Linked DNA regions of Homo sapiens: region 1 is linked to region 2. The links come from fine-mapping of genetic effects on gene expression. A gene starts in region 2. The other region holds a variant in brackets. All regions are shown on one strand. Distances are between the middles of the regions.

Region 1 (8,343 bases), 200 kb before region 2:
AGCCTGGCTGCCTCCCCGCACCCCCAGCAGAGCTGCCTACCTGCACCCCCAGGAGAGCTGCCTCCCTGCACTCCCGGCAGAGCTGCCCGGGCTTCTGAGTGTAAAAATAAAATAGAGGTTCCTCTTCAAAGAGACTTTCCTCCCCGTCTAATTAGGAATAAATAGTAACTTCTCTCAGAAACAAAATTTATTCAAAGACCTGTGCTAACATTCTTAGATATCTGCTAGCTATAATAAAGAAATCAATGTACTTTGTGTTCTTAGCTCCCACAATTTAGCCTAAATATTTGCCCTGGCATGCTTACACTGGTCCAAGCAAGTATTAAGTCATAGTCTGTTCCTCTTCCTTATTTGGAGGTGTTTTTACCTTTCTCAGCATTCCACAAGTTACTTCCTCCTTTGTTCTCCTCTGCCTTTGCCTCTTTTAAAAAGTTCTAAGTTGCTGGCTAATCAGGACAAATACAGAATGTGAGGTGCAGGGAGCTGAAGGCCCCTGGGAAGTGACCAACTCAGCATTTCGCTGGAGGCTATAGGATCAAACAGCAAACTGTTTATCATGAATGCAGGATGTGGGCAAACTCACACTGCCCTGCCACCAAAAGGTTTGTTGAGGGCCTCACTCCCTGGCGCTGGGCTCCTTGAAGTTATCTATTGAGAAGTCTAGCACCTAAGAATGCAGTCTTGCAAGCCTGCTGCGAATCAAGCTGCTGGCCAACAACCACTCCCCACCTTCTCACTATCTCTATTGCCTAATAAATATGGAGGGCAGTGTAAAGCTCAGGGCCCTTGTCCACTAGAGACAAGGTGCCCTCCGACCCCTTCTTCCAAATATACTCTTTTGCCTCTTGTCTTTTATTCCCGTGTTTGCCCCCTTTGTTCAGTCCCCCTAGGTCCATGCAGGTTACATAGTGGTGCCCCAAACAGTGACACAATTGGGTTCTCAACAAGTGGTGACTCAGAACAGGGACGCCAAGGATGCCAACAAGTGGCGTCTGAACACGGGACTTCGACGATGTGAACAAAAAAGATCTGCTGGAGCAGAGAAGCTGAAATTGACAAGGCAAACGGGGACCCCAGGATGAGTCTGCCGGCAGCATATATAAGGTCAGTGCTCTAAAGAGGTACTGGGAGCAGTGCTTTATAGAAGTGCTGGGAATGGGAAGCTTTCTGAATCAGGGTAGCAGGGGGAATAACTTGTCTGTTGAAGAAAAACATTATGTGCAGTTGCTTAAAGTTCTGTTGAGACAGTCTGGAGCTCAGGTTAATTCTCAGACACTAACCTCCTGCAGAAGCCACACAAAGTTATTATGCATAACTCATGGTTTCCACAGGCAGGCACTCTTGATGTGGAAAACTGGGATAGAGCAGGAGAAGGATTAAAACAGGCTCATCAAAAAGGTCTTGAAGTTGATTCTTCTGTTTTCTCCACTTGGAGTTTAGTTTGTACTGTACTTCTGCTATTATCTCATTATTCTGCGGGACAGCAGGCTGAATCTAAAAATCTAAAAGAATCTGTTGTCCCACCCACAGCTCCAACTGAAAATAAAAAACAGGAGAGGGAGGATAAAAGTTGGCCTATACTGCCTCCTCCAGTTGCAGAAACATTTGTACCGCCTCCTTTGGTGGCAGAAATAGAGACTCCAATACAAAGAATTTTATGCTCTGCTGCAATAGCTGGAGAGCCCTTAGGACCTCACGCTTTTCCTATTTCCATAAGGCCTAATCCTAACAATGCACAGCAGGTTATTCATGAACACACTCCACTAGATTTTAACTTGTTAAAGGAATTAAAAGCGAGTGTGGTAAACAATGGCGTACAGAACCCATTCACCTTAGGATTGCTAGAATCTGTGTTTGGTGCTATGCGTCTTTTACCATTTGATGTGAAACACTTGGCGTGAATTTGCTTGTCGGCTACTGCATATCTGACATGGAATTTAAATTGGCAAGAAATGTGTGCAGACCAGGCTAGACAGAACTGTGCTGCTGGAAATGGAGACATTACAGAGGATATGCTATTAGGTAATGGCCCTTATTCAGACCTGGAACCTCAAATGGGACTCCCAGATGTTGCTTATCAGCAGTGTGCACAGGCCACTAAATGCACCTGGGCCACTATTCCTGAAGGAGTCCCAGTACAATCCTTTTTATGTATCATACAAGGGTTGCAGGAACCCTATGTGCAATTTCTTGCATGATTACAAGAGGCAGTGAAGTGTCAGATTTCTCATACTGCGGCTGCAGAAATGCTAACCTTAACACTAGCTTTTGAGGATGCAAACACGGATTGTAAATGTGCACTGGCACTGGTGAGGTGTACAAAAAACTTGGGAAATTTTCTCAGAGCTTGTCAAGATGTAGGAACTGAGCTTCATCACTCTGCAATGTTAGCACAAGCAATAGCTAATTTATCAGTTGACAAATCTAAAAGGAGCCAAGGGTCAAACCCCAAAACGGGAAAATATTATAAATGTGGAAAAACTGGACATTTTAAAAAGGAATGCTGCCAGATCTCAGGACAGAAAGGACCTTACAATGCAGTGCCCCACCCAGCAGAATAAACACCAGGATTCTGTCCTCACTGTATGAAAGGAAATCACTGGGCTAATCAGTGCCACTCAAAATTTCATCAGAATGGCACCCCCCTGCTGGGAAACGAGATGGGGGCCTGGACCCAGGCCCCACAAACAATAAGGGCATTCCCAGTCCAGACCTCAACCCCATTTCAGAGGTCAGTTCCCAGAGGCACATTGATCCCCTCACCCCAGGAACACCAGGAAGTGCAGGATTAGATCTACCCGCCAGAGAAAGAATCACTTTAGTTGGTGGAGACAAACCTATGAAAGTTCCCACTGGCATTTGGGGACCTTTACCAGCAGGATATATGAGACTAATTTTAGCCAAAAGCTGCCTTAACTTGCAAGGCATTACTGTAGTGACTGGCTCTGATTATGAAGGAGAAATTCAAGTAGTTTTAATGTCACAAGATCTTTGGGTTTTTGAACCAGGAGAATATATTGCTCAATTATTGCTTATTCCCTGCAAATTACACCCTTCTCCATGAAAGGAGAAATGAGGAAATAAAGGGTTTGGGAGCACAACTACTTGGGAAATCTATCTATCCCAACCCATAGCCTCTAATAGAGCCACCTGTGTAGTACAAATTAAAGGACAGACATTTTATGGGCTTATGGATATGGGAGCTGATGTTTCAGTAATATGTAAAGACAATTGGCCCCCCATCCTGGCCCTTGCAATTAACTTCTATGTCCCTAATGGGAGTAGGAACAGCTCAAAGTGTTCAACAGTATGCTGAAATTTTATCTTGTCTTGGTGTGGATGGACAGTCATGTACTTTTCAGCCTCATGTTGCAAGTATAGCCATCAAATTATGGGGTTGAGACTTACAGCATGGGATATGAGACTTACAAATGAAACTTTTGATAACCCAGAACTTAAAATGTTAAAGAACATGGGATATCAGCAGGGAAAACCTTTAGGAAAATTTCTTCAGGGAAATCCTAACCCAATAGCAGTAACTGGAAAAACAGATAGCTAAGGGCTAGGACGTCAGGATTTCTGATGGAGGTCATTGATATTTCTCCTCTGCCCACTGCCTTACCATTAGAATGGCTCAGTGACAAACCCATGTGGGTGGATCAATGGCCCCTATCTCAGGAGAAGCCGACACAACTTCAACAGCCAGTAAAAGATCAGTGGGATGCTGGACACATAGAGGAGTCAGTTAGCTCCTGGAATTCTCCAGTGTTTGTTATTCTAAAAAAGTCCAGAAGATGGTGACTGCTACAAGATTTAAGAGCTATTAATACACATATAAAATGGATGGATGCCTTACAAAAAGGTATACCATCTTCAGTGGCTATTCCAAGAGT[C/T]TGGCCTCTTGTATTAATAGATCTTAAGGATTGTTTCTTTACTATATTCTTACATGAGAAGGATAAGCCTTGATTCGCCTTCTCTGTGCCTTCTATTAACCAAAGAGAACCTGTTTCTTGTTATCAATGGAGAGTTTTACCCCCAAGTCATGCTATGTCAACATTTTGTAGGACAGGCATTAAAGGAGTCTCGGAATATGTTTCCTACTGCTTACATCATTCATTTTATGGATGATATTCTTTTGGCCCCTCCTATAGATCAAATCCTACAGCAGTTATTCAGAGAAACGAAGCAAGCTTTGACTAAATGGAATCTCAAAATAGCTCTGAAAAAGGTACAAACAACTTCCCCATACCAATACTTAGGAATTATTGTTATGGAGAGAAGTGTACGGCCTCAGAAAGTAGTTCTCTGTAAAGACAGGTTACAGACTTTAAATGATTTTCTACAATTATTAGGAGATATTAATTGGCTACAGCCAATGTTAGGTATTGCTACCTATCAACTTACACATCTTTACCAAACCCTGCAAGGAGATTCTACTTTAAATTCCCCATGGCAACTAACTAAAGAGGCAGAAGCCGAATTACGGCTTGTAGAGAAAATGTTACAGCAGAGACATGCCTCACAGCTACAACTGCAAAAACCTTTGCTTTTGTTTATTCCTCCTACCCCCCACTCTCCAACAGGACTATTGGGCCAGTTCATAGACAAGTCTGCAACAGTAATAGAATGGCTCTTTCTACCTAATCAAACAGTCAAAACCTTGCAAGTTTATCTTTCTTTAATTACACAAATTGTGACTATGGGCAGGCATAGGTCAAAAATGCTTATGGGATATGACCCTGACAAAATTATTGTTCCTTTAGACTCCCAGCAACAAGCCACAGCTTGGGAAATGTCAACTGCCTGGCAAATTGCTTTTGCAGATTTCATGGGTGCTATAGATAATCACTACCCCTCAGACAAAATTTTACAGTTTTATAAAATCCATTCTTTCATTCTTTCTGTGATTACTCATCACAAGCCTATTGCAGGTGGACAGACTTACTTTACTGATGGCTCTTCCAGAGGTCATGCTGCTATCTATGGACGTAAACATACTCAAATAATAATGACATCTGGGGCTTCAGCTCAAGGCTCAGAGCTAATTGCAGTCATTCAGGTTTTACAGCTCGCAGCTTCAGATCCTATCAACATTGTCTGTGATTCAGCTTATGTTGTAAATGTAACCAGTCACATAGAAACTGCTACAATTAAAAGTACACTAGACCCAGAACTGTTTAATTTATTTTTAAGACATCATGTTCACACATATAAGTGGGAGCCAAACATTGAGTACACATGGACACAAAGGAACAGCAGACACTGGGGCGTGCTTGAGGATAGAGGGAGGGAAGAGGATGAGGATCCAAAAATTACCTATCAGTTTCTATGCTTATTATGTGGGTGGCAAAATAATCTGTACACCAAACTTCTGTGACATGCAATTTATTTATATAACAAACCTACATATGTTCACCGAACCTAAAAGTTAAAAAAATAAAAATTTCTACCAACATCTAATGTGAAAAACAAAACAAAACAAAACAAAAAAAGACTTCAGCGAGTTACTCGTTCTCATGCAGATCCTTTTCATATTTCTGATATTTGTTCTCATACACAACTTCCAGGACCATTATCCCTAGGGAATGATAAAGTAGATATAAATTGATTTGTTCTGTGTTTCAGCAAGCTCAAGCATCTCATGCGCTTCTGCATCAAAATACTTCCACCCTTACTTGCGTGTTCCATTTATCTTGCAGCCAAGCTAGGGCTATAATACAAGCCTGTCCTACTTGTCAGCATGTCCCTGGAGCCACACCTGTAGAAGGCTGTAACTCATGAGGTTTGGCTCCAAATGAAGTTTGGCAAATGGATGTTACACAATAGTTACCTTTGGTAAGCTTAGCTATGTTCATGTGACTATAGATGCTGCATGCTACATGCCAAGCAGGTGAGACAGCTGGTCATGTATGGCGACATTGTCATCATTTGCTCATATGGGGATACTTAAACAATTAAAAACTGATAATGGAACCGCTTATACTAGTCATGCTTTTCAAAATTTCTTACAGCTTTGGGCTATAACCCATAAAACAGGAATTCCTTATGATGCTAGAGGACAAGTCATTATAGAATGGGCCCATCAAACATTACAATGCATGTTGAAAAAACAAAAAGGGGGTATAGGAGGCCAACTACCACCTCAATCGAAACTACCTTTAGCCTTAGTTACTTTAAGTTTTTTTTTTTTTTTAGATGGGGTCTTGCTCTGTCATCCAGGCTGGAGTGCAGTGGCACGATCTCTGCTCACTGCAAGCTCTGCCCCCTGGGTCCATGCCATTCTCCTGTCTCAGCCACCTGAGTAGCTGGGACTACAGGTGCCCGCCACCACGCCTGACTAATATTTTTGTATTTTTAGTAGAGATGGGGTTTCACCGTGTTTGCCAGGATGGTCTTGATCTCCTGACCTTGTGATCTGCCCGCCTTGGCCTCCCAAAGTGCTGGGATTACAGGCGTGAGCCACCGCGCCCGGCCTCTACTTTAAATTTTTTGACTCCTAGTATGGATGGTAAGACTCCAGTAGAAAGACATTGGCAAATGTTAAAGGAAAAGAGGAAAGTTTATCCAAAAGTGTTATGGAAATCCCCGGAAGAAGGACAATGTAAAGGTTCGGTGGATTTACTGACGTGGGGAAGAGGATATACTTGTGTTTTTACAGATGGACAAACCCTGTGGGTGCCCTCAAGACATGTGTGACCATGGAATGGGAGACTGGAGGAACCCAGGGTGGCCAACCATGAGCCCGGTCCTTCTGGTACGAACCATGAGACAGCTGAGCCTGAGTGTAAAGACAGACAGAATGCCGGCCAGAGTCACAACACTGTTCTAATGCTATGTTTTCTGTAAAATTGGATGGACCACCAATCAGAGAATGAGAGCTACCCAGTCTGGCCTTACATTCTTTCAATTAATACATAAACAAAAAGTGGGATATGCAGGGAGCCGAAAGCCTGTGGGACATGACCAACTTAGTATTCTGCTGGAGGCTATATGATCAAACGGCAAACTGTTTATCATGAATGCAGGATGTGGCCAAACTCACACTGCCCTGCTACCAAAACGTTTGCTGAGGGCCTCACTCCATGGTGCCAGGCTCCTTGAAGTTATCTATTGAGAGATCTAGCTCCTATTGTTCTAAGAATGCAGTCTTGCCAGCCTGCTGTGAATAAAATGCCAGCCAACAACCACTCCCCTCCTTCTTGCTATCTCTATTGCCTAATAAATACGGAGGGCTGTGTAAAGCTCAGGGCCCTTGTCCACTAGAGGCAAGGTGCCCTCTGACCCCTTCTTCCAAATATACTCTTTCATCTCTTGTGTTTTATTCCCACATTTGCCCCCTTTGTTCAGTCCCCCTAGGTCCATGTGGGTTACAGTGAGGTCCCATTCCAGCCAATGGAAACCAGACACAGCAGTAGGGTGGATGCGTCAGGTTATAAATAACCCTGTCTCCTTTGTTCGGTGTACTCTTGTGGCAAAACTGCTGGTGAATGTACCCTTTCTGTAGAGAATAAAAATGGCCTTGCTGAGAAAATTAAATGTATGTTCAAGTGCTATTTCTTTGTGGCACCAGGGAACAAGCATTTCAAACATGAGTGACAGTCAAGTCTCACTTTTAGTCATGTTCTGCATTATGGGCTGAACTGTGTCCCCTGACATTCATATGTTGAAGTCCTGACTTTCAGAATGTGACTATATTTAGAGCTAGCACCTTTAAAGTGGTAATTAAGATAAAATAAGGTCACTAGGGCTGGCCTTAATCCAAAAAATCTGGTATCCTCATAAGAAGAGGAGATTAGAATGCAGACATTACACAGACTGAAGGACGGCCACGTAAGGACACAGTGAGAAGATGGCCATCTGCTAGCCGAGAAAAGTAGCTCATAGCAGTTTGAAGAATGGGATGTATGCAAAGTTTATCAGGCCCAGACAGACATGAGTGAGTCTTCAGTCATGCCCCTCACACCCATGTCAGGAATTAATCATTTAAAGGCAAGGTTATCATCAATAGCAATAAATGTCTTTGCCACACTGCTATTAATTGCAGATGAGGAAATGGGGTCACTCAAGTAAATTCTTCAGGGCCACATTTTTTTTTTTTTTTTTTTTTTTGAGATGGAGTCTCGCTCTGTTGCCCAGGCTGGAGTGCAGTGGTGCAATCTTGGCTCACTGCAAGCTCTGCCTCCTGGGTTCATGCCATTCTCCTGCCTCAGCCTCCCCAGTACCTGGGACTACAGGTGCCCACCACCATGCCCAGCTAATTTTTTTGTATTTTCAGTAGAGACAGGGTTTCACCGTGTTAGCCAGGATGGTCTCGATCTCCTGACCTCATGATCCACCTGCCTC
Region 2 (8,343 bases):
ACCTGAGAAAAACAAGCAATGGGGAAAGGATTCTGTATTTAATAAATGGTGCTGGGAAAACTGGCTAGCCATATGTGGAAAGCTGAAACTTGATCCCTTTTTTTCTTTTTCTTTTTGGCTCCTACCAATCACTAGCTTCAAAACTGACACAAAAGAAAGAAAGATGCACTTGCTCGATTTATCTTCTCAACTGGCCTCCTTCACCACTTCATAATTGTTGGAGATAACTTTTTTATTGTCCTAAACTACTTCTTTTTTTCTGGCTTTCTCACTCATCTACATCTCCTGCTAACTTCCTTTCTCCGTCATACCATGAAAATTTTGTCTTCATAAAAGCTAGTATCTTGGAGACAAACTACAGAGACTGAAGCATAACACATCAAGTTTTCAACAAGAATACGGGGGCTAATTGTATCTTTTCCAAACAGACTCCTGTTTCCTTTCCCCTATTTTCCTGTTTTCTTCATACCTGTGTGTGAATTTTTTTGCTTTTGCCAACACTGACTCAGGCAAATCCCTACACGATTTCCCTTCTGTTCCCTCTCATTTCTGGCCAGCTCACTTTTGCCTAAGTTTGTTTCTTTGCTATCTATCTCCTGTGCTTAGTATGTATAGGAACTTTCCCCACTCTTCCTTTCTCCAGTATCGCTGAAATTCCTGGGTATAACTAAACCACTTTCTGGAGTACTCCCATTTCTATTCTAAGACTCAAACAGTGAGAAGGGGCAAAGTGATCCTTCCTTTGCATGATTCATATCATCCCTCAGTTCCAAATCATCTCTTCCCTTTTAAAATTTATTTTTAAAAATACCCTTATTGTTTTTGATTATCCTTGAGGCATTCTCAGATTGTTCTTAATTATTTTACACTTCAACTTACCTTGCATGTACCTTTAGTGTCATCTCTTAGTTGCAACAGGGAATATGCAAGGTGTTTATAAAGGAGGATTCAGTGGTTCCCACTTAGCGATTGGATTAAGTTGGCAGCCTGAGACCATACGGTGTGTCCTCCTGCTCCTGCTCCAAATTTATGATAAGAAGGATGTATTAAACAAATGAACTCATAGCAGTGCTGGAAAACCTGAACAAGGAAAGCTACTTTTAGTGGCCCCAAATTATGAATATTTCTAGAACGATAAAAAGTAGATGGAATTCAATTAAGGAAAGAACCACAACCTAACATGCCTGTTAGGAGAAAACTGCTGAAAAAGTTCTGGAGTAGACCCACTCCAATTTATTCCAAGTAAGAACCAGTTGGTGTTTTCCCCTGGGAGGGAGATGTGAGGGGGTATTTGGGCCCATGGGGCAGGGCAATTCCAGGTGGCTGGAAACTTCAGGGAGAATGAGAAGCAGACAGGTCCAGAAACCCAACTCCTGGGACTCTCTACCAGACAGTACATTCTGTTACTTTCTCTGGGCCACTGGAGGTGGCTGAGAACATTCCTGGTGATGAGTGTTTATGGCACTGTTGACCAAAATTGAGGCTGTCAAGACAGAAAAAAATCTATAAAGGTTTATTGAACCTCAAATGTGTGGATTGACCCAGGAAGACACAGCAACAAAGTTGGAGTGTTCTGAGGTCTGTCAGAAGGTGAAAGGTTTTGACAGAAAAATCTGAAAAGACAGAGAGAGATTGCTCATACTGGAGTTGTTCTCTTTTCATTGGAGGGTACAATACAGAAGTTATAATCATTAGCTATGGATTATATCACAGGGTTATAGGAACACATTAAAGTCACAGCTCTGCAATCAGCAAAATACAGAATGTAGAAAATGCTAAAGGTCTAAATAACCAATTCTTTCAACAAAAATAATTGCTGCAAAAAAGAGAGAAGAAGGTTATAACAGGTAGACCTGAGATTTTCTAGGTATAGAATCATATCATCTGTGAAGAGAGACAGTTTTGCTTTCAGGAGAAATTTTGATACTAATTTCTCAACTTGGGGATTTACAGACAGGGAAAACAATGTATTTGAATTCCAAATCCATGTTTGGTGCAGACTTTGGTCCAAGATTCTCAAGAGAGATTTTTTCCCCTTTAAAAGGTTTAATAGTTTCATGAATGAAAAATTGATTTTATACTACCATGCCAAGCAACACTTTAATATATTCCTGTCTGCAAGTAACTACAATGTACAGTTATTATAATTCCTATCCAGACCCTGGGAGGGTTGAATAGCTGGACTTACAAAAATATAGTGTCTTAGAACCTGCTACATCCCCCATGAAGAGCAAATATTTTAACAGCAAGGGGGCCACATTTTAGCCCCTTAAGAGATGAAAGTAACAAACTCTTAATGACCAGCTTCATGTGGTGAAGAGTGTGTTGATGTGTACTGATAGTTGTGCTGATGCAAGAGCTTGAAGCAAATACCCTCTCCTGAAATTAAGCACTAAGCAAGAGCTCATCATATTTCTGTGTGACAATCAATAAAAACGCTCCACTCCCACATTTTACAAAGGAAAACTCATCATTCTTTCAGTATAGAGTCAAATTTTATTGTCCTATGCTATGTGCCTACTTTAGGCTTGTCAAGTTTAGTGCATCCTAGGCCCACACTAGGTCTTTCTGCACTTTTGACATTAACAGTATACACATTTTAGACAGAATGTAGTGAATTTGGGGTCAGAAAGGCCATATTCCTAGTCAAGTTGCTCTCAAAAGTGATTGATAAAACACAATAGCAATTTAAAGGGAGCTTGCTGTCAAAGAAAGATTGAGACTTTGATTAGGGCTTAGACATTGATTGATTACCTCTTGGGGCTATCACTCCATACCAATAGCCAAAAATGTTTGGCATCAGGATTACAGTAGTTATAGATAAAGCCTCAATAGAGGTTTGAGTTTCCTTCTTTCCATAAGGCTACATTCTTGATTAGTGTACCTAAATATGTAGTGCTTACAAATGTTAAGTTTTTACACCTTCTCTGTTTTGCATTTATATTATTTGTATGTGTTGTATTTTCATACTTTTTTGTACAAAGACAAAAGTTGCCAAAAGGAAATTAAGAGCTTTTGGGCTGACATTTGTTATTTTTAGTGGGTAACTTATAAAAGTTGACAGAAAAATGTTATATTTCTATCTGGTCATAGATGGCATTGACCATCCTATAAATATTTCTCACACACTGACCATGTGCCCAAAACTCGTTGAGGAAAGAGGAAAATGTACAGGTAATCATAGCCACTTTACTCTCCCAAGCATCTACCAGGCATAGAAGTAAAGGAGATTTAGTGTTTCCCTTCTATAAATACAAAAATGATAGGAGAATGCAGAGTCACAAATGCCCCAATGTACAGTATCCTAGATGACTTTCTAACAGCAGGGCTTCCTGAGTGTGACACCCAAATATCTTTCCACTTCTCTCATTCACCAACATATGTTTATAATAACCATGTAGTTACATTTGCAAAATAAGATAAATAAAAATATTTTAGAATATTGGCTGGGCGTGGTGGCTCACACTTGTAATCCCAGACCTTTGGGAGGGCAAGGCAGGCAGATCCCTTGAGCCCAGGAGTTTGAGATCAGCCTGGGCAACATGATGAAACTCCATCTCTGCCCAAAAAAATTATATACATTTGGATGGGTCGTTTGCAAAAAAGTAGGGAAGTGTACCCTTGCAAACAAGGACAACATTGATAGTCAATCTTCTTATAGAAAGTGGTAAAAGTGGTAAGCTCTACAAAGGAGCAAGTAATGTTTGCAGATGCAAATCTTACATGCTAACCACTTTGCTAGCCAGATACACTCTGGAGGAATCAACTAATTGGTGTAGGTGTAATAGGATATGTAATATTGCTTGATCAAGACTCTGCTTCTGTGGTTGTTTCTCCACATCTTCCAAAAGATCTTTGCGAAACACTACATTCAGAAACATCAGATGGACATGCTTGATTCACCACGTCTTGGTTAATGAATAAACTTGTTTTAAATTGGCTTATTGCTGGTCTCTCAAGGCTTCCTATTTTTGTTTGCTTTAGTCTCTCTAAAATTTCAGGGAAAAACTATGAGTCTCAAAATGCTTATAAGCAGGAACAAGCTGATTTTACTACTAGGAATAGTCTTTTTTGAACGAGGTAAATCTGCAACTCTTTCGCTCCCCAAAGGTAAGTTTCAAATGAACTCTATAATTACCTTTGTCTGAACCTTTGCTGGCAATGGACGTCACAACTCCGAGACTCCATGTTCCTTTGGGAAAATAGGAGAAGCAAATATATTTTGGATATCTAATTGTTTTTAAACAATTATTTTGGACTTATCTCCTGCAATCGGCATAGGACACAGGGTGAAACATTTATAGAATGCAACTAATGTATCCAATTAAGTAAACAATCCCTGTTTTCTTCGCTTAGTTTTCCTAAGTGAACTGAGATTGTTCACTTACTTGAACCCATTACATAATCCCATCTTGGTTCATAGAGCAAATTCTGGAAATCAGCATGGATTTGGAAGCATTTTTAATCTTTTACAAAATCATCTTGCTGAGAAATATGAAGCATGTTCACTGTAGTATATTATAAATGGTCTTTTTTCCCCTTCAACTAACTTAAGCTGAAAACAGTTCTTGGAAGATTTCTCCTTGGTCAGACTTGTGCCAACCCTGAGAATCAACATGTTTTCTGACTTTGCTTTACTGAATTTGGGAAATAGTAAATTTTGTATTTAAAGTATTTATGACTCATTCAACTGAAACAGTTAGAAAATAAGCTTTTGTTCCAATGTCATCCTGGCACTGGGTTCAGGATCAAAACACTTACTGTTACATTCATGCTCTGCCATTATCCAGCTGTGTGTCTCCTTGATTCTCAGTTTTCTCATCTGCAATGTGGGGATAACAGTGCTTCATTTATAGGCATAGAGTGGGATTAAATGAGAAGCTGTATGAAAGAGCTTTGAATATTTTAACATGTTGATCTAAATAGCTATACTCTTAAGGATGTGTTCTCAAGAAAAGTCATTTGTTTGTCCATCCAGTGTTTCTAAGTGCTTACTTATGCCAAGAATTAAGCTAAACCTTAGAAATGCAGAGGTGAATAAGGCAAGTTTTTTCCCTTGAGTAGTTCATAGTCCGATGATAGAGGCAAATAATTCATTATCACAATTCTGCATGACAAGAACTATAAAAGGGGTGAAGAAAGCGTGCTACACAACACAAGGGAGAGGCAATCCCACTTTGAGGAAATCAAGGAAGACTTCCTGGTTGAGGTGATCTCCAAGCTGAGGAATAAGAATTACAGAATTTAGGTAGGCAATGAAGCATGGTGATTATGAAGCAAGGCTAGTTCTAATCCTCCTTCAAAATATGGAAAAGGATGACCTCCAGGAGGGACAGAAGATGTGCCATCCTTGAGTTACCAGGTGATGTTAAACATCTTTAATCTAGTCTACCTCTTTGCTGAGGAGTCAGAAAACCCATTGAGGGCAAATAAATAAAAACAACTTTTTCAGGGATAAAGTATTTTACATAAAGAGGGAGGAGTTTTTTCTTCTATTACCTAGCAAACCTCTATCCGAGTACCAACTTGTGAATCAGGACACTTCACTCCACTCTCCTTAAATGACCTGTCACTTTTCATCCCTCAAGAGAATTAAATCCAATAAAGATTTATTGATATCTGAATGTGTGCTGAGCACCATACACCATAGTCTCAGACTCAGTTTCATGGGTGAAATGGAGAAGATATTACCTCAATCCTAGAAGCTATCTAATCATTTAGTTTGTCTCGTTTTTTTCTCAGCTCCCAGTTGTGGGCAGAGTCTGGTTAAGGTACAGCCTTGGAATTATTTTAACATTTTCAGTCGCATTCTTGGAGGAAGCCAAGTGGAGAAGGGTTCCTATCCCTGGCAGGTGAGTCTCAAGGACTTCTATGCATCAAGAACTGTGCTAGATATTATGGATATAGATATTTTTAAGGTTAAGTTTATATCTTTGAGGAGCCTACAGCCTAGTTGGGTTGAAAGACAGAATAGTCATCATGGCATGTGATGAATGTCATAAGAAAAAGTATTTACTTGTACATAGTAAGTCATTTTAGAATCAAATCAAGTATCACAAATAGGATAAGCAAAAATTAGAAAGTATATTGGAGAGGTAGGGTAAAGAATAGGCTTGAAGAAGCTATAGGGGTCAAATAGTTAAGAGTATGAGAAAAGTGGTAGATCCAAACCATTTCCCTAAGAGGCTTAGAGAAATAGGAGTATGTGTTGAAAGGCTCCCCAGCCCTCACCTTGCCTTTCTTCCAAACCTCTTCAGCTGGACTCTGCAATATCTTATACTATTTTACCTTCATTCACAGACACTGTTCATATTGTTAGAGCAACAGGTCTGCATCAACTGTGTTATAAAAATAAGTAAATACATCTCACCACTTCTAACTGCTACCTCTGTTGACACATACTTACAGCCAGTCATCTCAAATTAACTACCTCTCATCTAGACCAGGGTTGCCAGCACCACTCTTCTTTCTGAGCGGTAGTGTCTGGGCTTTATCTTTTCACAGTCCACGATTCTTGACATTTACGAGTGTGATATCTGAGTCTGGTTTTGAGAATAGGCTTCATCACCGTGTTTAGGGGGATCCCAGGGCATGAACTTGCTTTCATTTAAGGTATTTGCAATTTAGGTATCTCTGAAACAAAGGCAGAAGCATATTTGTGGAGGAAGCATCGTCTCACCACAGTGGGTGATCACGGCGGCTCACTGCATTGCAAACAGGTAAGAAAGGCCTAGCCCATGAGTGAAGACCACACCACCATTTCTTCTCCCTTGGAATCATCAGCAATAACCCTATTAAAACATGGACCTGTGTGATAGGTGAGTATTGGTTTAACAGATGAATATCCTAATTGCATGACACAAATGGGGCTGGGTGACATTGTCAGATGGCACTTGGTAGATGACATATATTCTTTTCAGAGGTAAAATTCGTTTTTACTTAAAATAACTGGAAGTTAATAATAGCATCCAAGTCAGAAAAAAAAGAGCATTACAAAGAAGGATTTGTGAAAGTTTTCTTCTAGTTTTCTTAAATTTCAGTGAAAAAATATCTAGTTCATTATGCATCTGAAGAAATGGATAAAAGAAAACAAAGGGAGACCAGTAAAGTAGAAAGTAGGCTCCCTGTCTTCCTTCCCATTGATCCTGCCTCTCTGGGACTCAACCCAACAACTTCCCTTTACCCACTTTCTTGTGTGATCCAAATATCCTATTATTGACAGTGTTCTGGGCGTATACTAGGCTGTAATCAAGATCATGTTCCCATATAGTCATTCTTTCATTTCAAGTCTGCAAACATTTCCTGGATGTTTACTTTGTGCTAGATACCAAAGGTACCAAAATGACTAAGACATGATTTCTGCCCCCAGAGAGTTGACTCTTCTTTTAACAAGAGTCAACCGATCATCTCACAGCAATGTGGCAAGTGGTAGGTAAGAGAGACATTATGTGTTAAGTTAGGTACCTAATTTGGCCAAGAGTCAGGGAAGTATACCTAGAGAAAACATGCCTTTTTCAATTTTGTATAGAAGCATCACTTCTGGGAATGAAGCGTCTCAAAGGATGGCAAGCTGAAGTCTTTATATATCTCAATGCATCCCACCAAGTTCCTTTCAGAGAACATTAGTTAGTTATAATGCAGTCTGTGCCTTATAATATATACTAAGCATAGGATCTCTGACATTGAAGTAGCATACTTACTGGGAATCACAAATCATTCCCAAAGGGTCTCACTGATATTAGGTCAGGTCAACCTCCCAGGGTAGCTGAATAAAGTCCCCTATAGCTGTAGAGCCCTGAACTACAATGTATGTGCCTCTCTAGATATTTTCAAATAACATTGCAAAGTATTAAATTCATCATATCCTTGGCTATATATGAACCCACTCTTCACTAGTCCTCTACTGGAAGTTGGAATCTCTGCATTTTTTTCTAACAGTGTTGGAATTATTCTCACTTTCTCTGCTCAGCAGCCTCACACCCCATATTATTTATCCATATCATTTTAAAGAAGCTAGTGTGTCAACCATTGCAACTGTACTCAGAGGCACAATGAAATTCATTCATTTTACTCTTTGCTTTCCATAGAAACATTGTGTCTACTTTGAATGTTACTGCTGGAGAGTATGACTTAAGCCAGACAGACCCAGGAGAGCAAACTCTCACTATTGAAACTGTCATCATACATCCACATTTCTCCACCAAGAAACCAATGGACTATGATATTGCCCTTTTGAAGATGGCTGGAGCCTTCCAATTTGGTAAACATTTGAGGATCATACTGAATTGTCTACCCCATGTTCTCTATAACCTCTGTGCCATAGCACATTTCCTGCAGTATACG

Alleles and levels. Positions count from the first base shown, and alleles are read on the strand shown. Sizes are in standard deviations (SD) of each study's normalised expression.
In carriers of allele T in region 1, the expression in minor salivary gland of the gene that starts at base 3,940 in region 2 tends to be lower than with C alone (moderate effect, 0.70 SD a copy in GTEx).

The links.
Region 1: its variant is fine-mapped to the expression of OVCH2 in minor salivary gland (GTEx, PIP 0.99).

The regions. Positions count from the first base shown.
Region 1 is chr11:7,898,364-7,906,706 of GRCh38, reverse strand. LOC283299 (a long non-coding RNA gene) reads left to right here and starts at 752. Exons shown (of 8, transcript NR_036678.1): 1 at 752-1,104. It overlaps LOC107984307 (a long non-coding RNA gene), which reads right to left and starts at 385. Exons shown (of 3, transcript XR_001748116.2): 1 at 41-385. RefSeq lists enhancers at 120-663, 664-1,207, 9-1,208. The variant C/T (reference allele first, on the strand shown) is at 3,894.
Region 2 is chr11:7,702,074-7,710,416 of GRCh38, reverse strand. OVCH2 (ovochymase 2) reads left to right here and starts at 3,940. Exons shown (of 16, transcript NM_198185.7): 1 at 3,940-4,110; 2 at 5,743-5,852; 3 at 6,628-6,719; 4 at 8,088-8,260. The coding sequence starts at 4,023. It overlaps LOC105376533 (a long non-coding RNA gene), which reads right to left. Exons shown (of 11, transcript XR_007062576.1): 7 at 4,762-4,822; 8 at 4,139-4,192; 9 at 880-1,016.